Linked DNA regions of Homo sapiens. The protein of the gene in region 1 interacts with the protein of each later gene in a pairwise test. Each region holds a gene or a part of one and is shown on either strand. Other genes may lie near its edges. The genes, in order: TLE3 and CHERP.

The links.
Region 2: the proteins of TLE3 (region 1) and CHERP interact in binary tests that used the Homo sapiens proteins (3 or more experiments, as listed by UniProt).

What each region holds. Positions count from the first base shown.
Region 1 is NC_000015.10:70,091,110-70,094,917, forward strand, and holds part of TLE3 (transducin-like enhancer protein 3), read right to left. Parts: intron 3,681-3,808; exon of another isoform or gene 3,617-3,680; intron 3,468-3,616; coding exon 3,423-3,467; intron 1-3,422. UniProt on the Homo sapiens protein: Transcriptional corepressor that binds to a number of transcription factors. Inhibits the transcriptional activation mediated by CTNNB1 and TCF family members in Wnt signaling.
Region 2 is NC_000019.10:16,528,700-16,532,507, forward strand, and holds part of CHERP (calcium homeostasis endoplasmic reticulum protein), read right to left. Parts: intron 2,182-3,808; coding exon 2,070-2,181; intron 1,976-2,069; coding exon 1,886-1,975; intron 1,202-1,885; coding exon 949-1,201; intron 1-948. UniProt on the Homo sapiens protein: Involved in calcium homeostasis, growth and proliferation.

The DNA.
Region 1 (3,808 bases):
TCATCTGTAACTTGAAAAGTTTGCATGAGAAGCCAAAGGGCTCTTCCAGTTCCAAGATTCAAAGAGAAACTTACAGGAAAGGTTGTTCAGTTCACAGAAAAAGGTGACTGTATTGTGTCGGCACGACACTGCCCCAAAATCAAAATGGCTCAAGTCCACTTTCAAAAATGTCAGTGCTCACCAACAGTGGGTGAAAAGGCTGCCTGACCCAGCTTCTCAGAGAGCCAGTGCCTCAAATCCAATGCATGGCAATTGCTCTGGGGCCCCTGGTTTTAAGCTGGCTTTGTTATTTGTGGCTGACACTGGAAAGCCTCTGCACAAACAAGATGGCAAGTGATGAGCCGGTCAGTCATCACTGCCTTCCCAGACTCTCTGAACCACCCTTGACATTCTGCCTGGAAGCAGGGGGCTTGGTGGAGGTGGGTGACCTCTTGAAGTCCCGGGCCAGGCCTGTGATTCTGTAATCTTTGCTTTACCATAATTAGGGAGGGAGGCAGAAGAGCAGGAGGAGAAACCATTTATTACTTCTCTGGGATTTTGACAGCTTGGAAAAAGAGAGAGACAGAGAAACAGCCAGAGAAGGAGCCAGCCACAGTGAGTTTAACCTCTCAGTAAAATAAAAATGGGCTGGACGCACCTCATCAGCTGCCCTCTGTCAATACCCGGGCCCATCTGGCAGGACTCGAGGTTCCCAGCTAATTGGCATTTCCCATAGAGCCAGCAAAGGAGAGCTTTTAAAAAAAATATGTGGTGGTGATGGTGGAGTGCGTGTGCGTGTATGCGCGCAGGCTGAGGACTGCCACACTTCCCAAGGTGCTAGCTCTATAGATCATCTATTATATAAAAGTACAGACAGTCCCCACCCCCACCCCAGCTTAAAGATGAAGAATCCAGCCTGTTTGTTCCAGGCAGATGTAATCACACGAACAGTCAAGTCTAGAGGGCAGGACACTGCATGAATAATTCAAGCACTCCAGTCACTTGATTGTGTGTGCCGATAAAACACCAGTCAACCGCTAAACAGGTCAGCTGATAAACTTGTTTGCTCAGGCCTAACCACCATTCGCCAAATGCACCCAAGACCCACACTACAATTAGTGGCAGGGCTTTCTTCTACAGAACCCTTGCAAACCTAGGGAGTGGCCAGCTCCATTAGATCAGGGTTGCATTTCACGGCACAGGTTTCTTCACCTCCTTGCCTCTTTGTTCCTCCACAGCCACAGGGTGATTTCACCCAACTCAGAGACTGCCATAAGCTTGCAAAGCCACTGCATTCAGAGCACACATGTTCAGGCTGGGAACTCAGGCTAGAGGGCAAAGGTGAGTGGCAAGCAAGGTAAAGTGCCCAGTGGGGAAGCCAGAGGGCTGGATTTGAATCCCAGCTCTGCCCTCCTGGCCTCCCTGAAGCCTCAGTTTCCTCACCTATAAACAGGGGGCAAAGAATGCCTCTATCCACCACTGGCAGCTGAGAGGATTAAATGAGACAACGTAGCCAAACCCCAGGCATTCTCCCCTTAAGAACCTTGTTTGGGGAATGGCCAGAAATCCCAGATGTACACAGCTGCTCTTTATATAAACCCCACCACCAAATGCGTTAAGATATTTAACTCTTCCTGCGTTCACAGCATCCCCAGGACTCACAGAACAGATCTGCTGCGAGCCAAGGTGGATTCTTAGTGCCAAAGCACCATTCATTCACAGACATGCGGAACACCACCCATGCAGACCTCAACATGCAACGAGACATTACACCTTAATTACCAAGCTCTTCCAATAACTGCTGCTATAAATTTTAAACCTGGGTGCAATTACCCTCTTTAAACACACCCAAGATACTATTTGAGAAAAAAAAAATTAAGACAGGGCAGACAAAGGGAGGAAGTGGCACCCTGCATACACCCCAAGGTCCTTGAAACACCTGGGCCCCCAGTTCCATTTCAAGCATTCTTCCGGGACCTGGCCCCTTCCAGTTGCAGAACCTGTCTCTATTCTATTTTTCCAAGGAGAAATATCTTTACGTATAAAGCCCTGTCTATTATTTCTGTGTGTCAAGAAGTAAAAACATGGTAGCCTTCATGTGCCTTCCTAAGGGACTAACTAATCCCTCAGGAAGCCACAAGCTGGCTTCCCACACATTGCTCAATAAACTCAGGCCCCTTTCTGGCTTCCCTTCACCCAACACTGGGGGCTCCCTCCAGGAGGGGAAAGGAAACTACAGATCCCAAAGGCTCTATAGGAAGCCACCCGAGTGGGTAGGAATCTGCCCACTTTCCAGGGTCACCTGCCCTTCTCACCTGCCCTGGGTCCTGCCTCCTTAAAGAGCAAAATTGAAACCTTGTAAACGACTGTTAATTTAGAGCAGAAAATCCATTCAAGTCACGGTCACCAAAGGCTAGAATGAGTCAACAGCCTTCTGAGATTTCATGAACACCAATTGTTAAAAAGAACAACCGGCCTGCCTGCTCCATTTATACGTGCCAAGTCAACTCTAAACGTTGGCCAAGCCAAATTATAGGCAGCCTTTCCTCAGAACACAAATACACAAACAGGCCTCTCCCACAGCCCAGCCTAGCACTGGGACTAGTTACTGATATGCACTGAGATAAAGGGTGTTTGTATTTGCTCGGTTTGAGGTATACTGTTATTAGAAGAGTGACAATACCAGGTAGTTTACATATCCATCAAACGACACCACACTAGCTAAACTGGTTTGACTTCAGGATTTCAAAGCTGAGCTCAACCCCCAGCCATCTCGAAAGTCCTGGCTAGGCTGCCCCTGGGCAAGTTACTTCACCCAGGAGCTTCAGCTTCCTTCTCTGTAAAATGGGAACTCGGCTGCCTTCAAATCAAGACAGGGATGAGAAAGCCACCTTGTCAATGCAAGGCACTGAAGTTGTATTTCATTCTGGCTTCATATTTTTAAGCAGTTAGTGGCTTCGTTCCCTTAAATTTCGACAGCTCAGCCTGGCTTTTAAGGTTCTTGAAGTTTAATCTTATCAAGGCAGAACATCACATTTCTGCAAAAAGAAAAAAAAAAGGAGAAAGAAAAAAAAAATCCTCCTGCATTTCCTCTTGAGAATTTTACATTAAAACAGATAAAAGCAGCCAGCCACCTCTGGGCTTTCAGGAGTTTGTAAAGCAGATCCTGGAGGTACAACTTTCCCTTTGGTCCTTTATCCTCCACCGAGATCCAAGACCAGGACTAATTTCACAAGCTCAAATGCTAAAAGCTCAACATGTCTAAAAAAAAATCAGCAAAGCCTCAGACCTTGCATTTCAAGGACTGGATCCATTCACTCTTCAAGGAGAAGGGGGAGGAATCGAAGAAGCAGGCTCACTTTCAAACAAGAGAGAACATAAGAAGTCCACATATATAAGTTTTTAAAAAATGAAATATATTTTTAAAAGAGAAAAGCACTTACCTGCTTGTGCATTTCAATGTTCAAGCCATAGGACATCTCATAGTACTAAAAGTAAAAAGAATGGCTATTAACAGACAACACAGAAATCTGGTCATTTTTCAAAATCAGTTTTTTCTTGGAAAGGTTTTGGCCAAATCATACTTTTACGATACATTTGCTAAAGAAGTTTAAATCAAACCCCAAAGCCAGCTTACAGAGCGGTTTAAGAGCTGACAAGGGCGAGCGTTCCTCTCATCTCAACAGAACGTTATATTATGTGGTAGTAAGGGGAGCTGGGCCTTCCCTCCCACAAGCACCACATGTGCCCTATATCCTGTTTATACAAGGTTCAGGTTCAACAGGGAATCGTGTGTACACTGGGACCCTCTTGTCCTCTGAGAGTTATT
Region 2 (3,808 bases), on another chromosome or scaffold:
TCCCAGCACTTTGGGAGGCTGAGGTGGGTGGATCCCAAGGTCAGGAGATCGAGACCATCCTGGCTAACACGGTGAAACCCCGTCTCTACTAAAAATACAAAAAAGTAGCTGGGCATGGTTGCGTGCGCCTGTAGTCCTAGCTACTCAGGAGGCTGAGGTAGGAGAATGGCGTGAACCCAGGAAGCGGAGCTTGCAGTGAGCTGAGATCACGCCACTGCACTCCAGCCTGGGCGACAGAGCAAGACTCCATCTCAAAAAAAAATCAAAAACAAAATCCTTTGCTAGATTCTGCTAAGATTTCCTTCAGTATTTCCGTGTCTTTTTCAGAAGTGACACTAGATTGTATTTTCTGAGACAGGGTCTCGCTTTGTTACCCAGGCTGGAGTGCAGTGGTGTAAATGCAGCTCACTGCAGCCTCAATCTCATGGGCTCAAGTGATCCTCCCACCTCAGCCCCCAAGTAGCTGGGACGACAGGTGAGCACCATTTTTCTATTTTTAGTAGAGACGGGGTTTCACCATGTTGCCCAGGCTAATCTCAAACTCCTGGGCTCAAGCGATCTGCCCATCTTGGCCTCCCAAAGTGCTGGGATTACAAGCGTAAGCCACCATGCCTAGCCAATTATATTTTCAGTCTGTGCATTGTCCTTCCTGCCTGATGTAATAGTTACCCTAGTCTTGGGGAATGATCTGGGTACCTTTCCTCTATTTCTTTTCTCTGGGAACAGGAAACAGATCTTCTGCTGTTCAGGAATGGGATGGTTGTAGTTTTACTCTAGGATCACCTGGCTCGTGCTTGTAAATGGATGAAAACCTGGGCCTAGGAGCAGGCCTGGGACGAGGGAACAAGAACTGAGTCTGAGGGTGGCAGACTGCTTTCTGACTACACTCGGTGCCCAGCCTCTGGGGGCTGTTTCCTGGGGGCAGGCTGAGCTGAGGGAGCCCCGTACCAGGCTGGGTGGTGGGCGGGATGGCAGGGGCAGGTGCTGGGGCCGGGGGTGGAGCAGGCGGTGGAGGCGTGGCCTTGACTTCAGCCTCCATCTGCGGCATCTGGAGCTGCTGCTGCTGCTGTTGCTGCTGCTGCTGCTGCTGGGCCAGGCTGGTGACAAACTCCTCGTGCTGCGTCTTGAGGGTCTGGATCTGCTGCTGGAAGGCCAGCTGCACCGGCTGGACCACTGAGGAGTACTCGTTGATGAGGGTGGCCTGAGAGAGAGAAGAGCACCCGCTGCTCAGTATGCGGCCTTGGGGCTCGCTGCCTGGCGCCAGAGGACAAACGCCTGGAAAGCAGCAGAGCCTGGGGGACCTGGGGCAGGTGGACAGGGAACCGTCACGTGAAACAGCCAACACAGTCTGGGCAATCAGTGTGCGCTGGGATCTGGCCAGAGATTTGGGGATGAGGATGTTCGCTGCAGCGTGTTTTACGACTCCCTGATAACAGAACGAGCAACGACAGCCGTGTCCTGGCCGCTTCGTGGCTGCTCAGCGAACACTGCCCACCAACATTCTGGGACACGCTCATGGGCTCTGCCTCCCACTCGCCATGTGGCTCTCAGCAAGAGGGGCTGCCACAGCCTAAGCCACGTCTGGGCTTCCTCATGCTTCCACCACACCGGAACATGCCTGACCACCAGAGCAAATGGGCCATGTGCAATGACTCCGAAAGGCCGCCTGGTTCTAGTGTTCCAGGAAAGTCAGGGAGACACACCTAAGGCCTGGGAAATGTCACCTGGGACTCTCTGGTCAACACACACTGGCTACTCCTAGCACAGGCAGGGGACATGGGCTCTCTGGCTGCTGGGGTGGCAGCTGCTGTCCCCACACTCCCAAACCCTCCTGGGGAACCCGCCCCAGCTCTAGGGTGAGGTGTGGGTGGGCAGGGACACTCACCTGGTACTGACCAAGCCCCAGGGCTGGGCTCTGTAGCTGCTGAATGATGGAGTCATCGAAGTAGCCGTTTTTCTCCCAGAGCTGCAGGAGCTGGCGGTGGGAGGAGAGAGAGGCCGGGTCAGTGGGGAGGGGAAAGGCCTGTGTGTCCCGGTCTTGCCCAACCCCCGGCCCGGGGCCCACGCACCCGGGCGATCTTCTGCTGCTTGTCTTCCTCCACGGCCAAGAAGCTGGTGCAGTAGATGGGCACCACGACCTTCTGCAGGGCGGCCAGCAGCTCCCGGGCCTGCTTGCGCTGGCTGTGAGGGAGAGACTTTCCGCGCGTCAGGGCCCTGGGGCGGGACCCGGCCACGCGCCCGTTACCATCGCGGCTCCAGCCTCAGCGCCCTCTGCCTTCTCGGGAATCGGGTCCCCAACCCGGTCAGGGCGATGGCTGGGCTCCCACGAGACCTGTGCTGGTGCCTGGGCTCGAGGAAGGGACAGATGGAAAAACAGCAAGCAGGGGAGGGAGAGAACGTGGCCTGGGGCCGTTCTGAGCAAGGCCTTTTGGTCCAGTCCCCTTGATAGGAAATAACCTTCCCTCCTTCCCTCTTGGGTGGCGCTGCGGGTGAAGGGATATGGGCCGGCGGGAGCCCCTGCCTGTGTATGATGGGCGGGATGGGACTGCTGCGGAGTGGGGGTCTTGTCCTTGTCACTCACTATGCACAAGGAAACCTCGGCCCAGGCCAGGCCTCTTGGGAGAAGGAGGGAGGGTGCCCAGTCCCTCAGGAACCTAGAACACTTTAGAAGAGTGACCGGATGCCCAGCGGGGGGAGGCGCCGGGCCCATGTCCTCTCAGGGCTGCTGTGCAGTGCTGCACAGGACACTGTGCATACCTGGCCTGGGAGGCCCCTGCCGCTGCGCAGGGAGATGGCTGCCCCTGGGGAGGGACGCAAGACAGGAGGGGAGCAGCTGGAAGCCCCTCAGCCCTCAGCTTGCCGCAGGGGGCTCAGGGGAGCAAGGGCCTGGGCTGGGCGAGCAGCACTTGGCTTCGGACAGAGTAGAGCTAGAGAGGCGCGTGGCTGGAGAATGCGGGAAACTGTGCATCCGTGCAAGGCACCCGACTCAGAGGCAGGGAGAAATGGAGGCATGAGGAGGAGCAGAAGGGCAGAGCTGGTGCCGAGCCGCAACTCACTTCCCAGCAGGAGAGAAACAGGGACTGAGGTGGGGAGGCAAGAGGGACTCAGGCAGTGCTGCATGTGATAGATGGGGCGAGATGGGTGCTGGCAGCCTGGCCCACTGTAGAGGCACACGAGGCGCCAGGCCAGGACTGCTGCCCGCTAGGCTCAGTAGCAATGCTTGTCTCCTCCCGCACGTGCGGGCCTTTGGCCTGGGGTTCTATTGTTTTTTTTTTCTTTTTTGCTAATTTTTGTGAGAAGGGCCCCAGTGACCCTGTAGAAGGAAATACCCACCCAACCTTGGGGAGGGTGGAGACAGCAACAGTGGGAAGGGTGAGGGCTGGGTGGGGACAGAGGGTCGGCAGATGTGGCTCTGTTGAAGCCTGAGAGATGGGTCAGGGCTGGAGAAGGGGATCCCAAAGGAGGGTCCTGATGGCTGAGCAAAGTCAGGTGACCGCGTGTGTGTGCGTGCAAATCAGTGACGAGGGCAGGAGACAGACACAGAGGCCAAGGAGGCCGTGGCTGAGAAGGCAACAAGGAGACGCCAAGAAGCTGCCCCATGAGAGGAAGGAGTGCAGGGGACAGTGGCCCCCAGGAGACAGCAATGTGACAGGTGAGGCCGGGGTCTAGGGGAGAGGACAGGGCATGCAGCGAAGGTGCACAGGACACCTAGACCTCGCAGTCCTGGAGACAGAAGCCTGGTGGCTCACAGAGACCCCCCACCCGGGGTCCCCGGACAAGTGCCCCCTAGTCTCGGGACAGGCCAAGC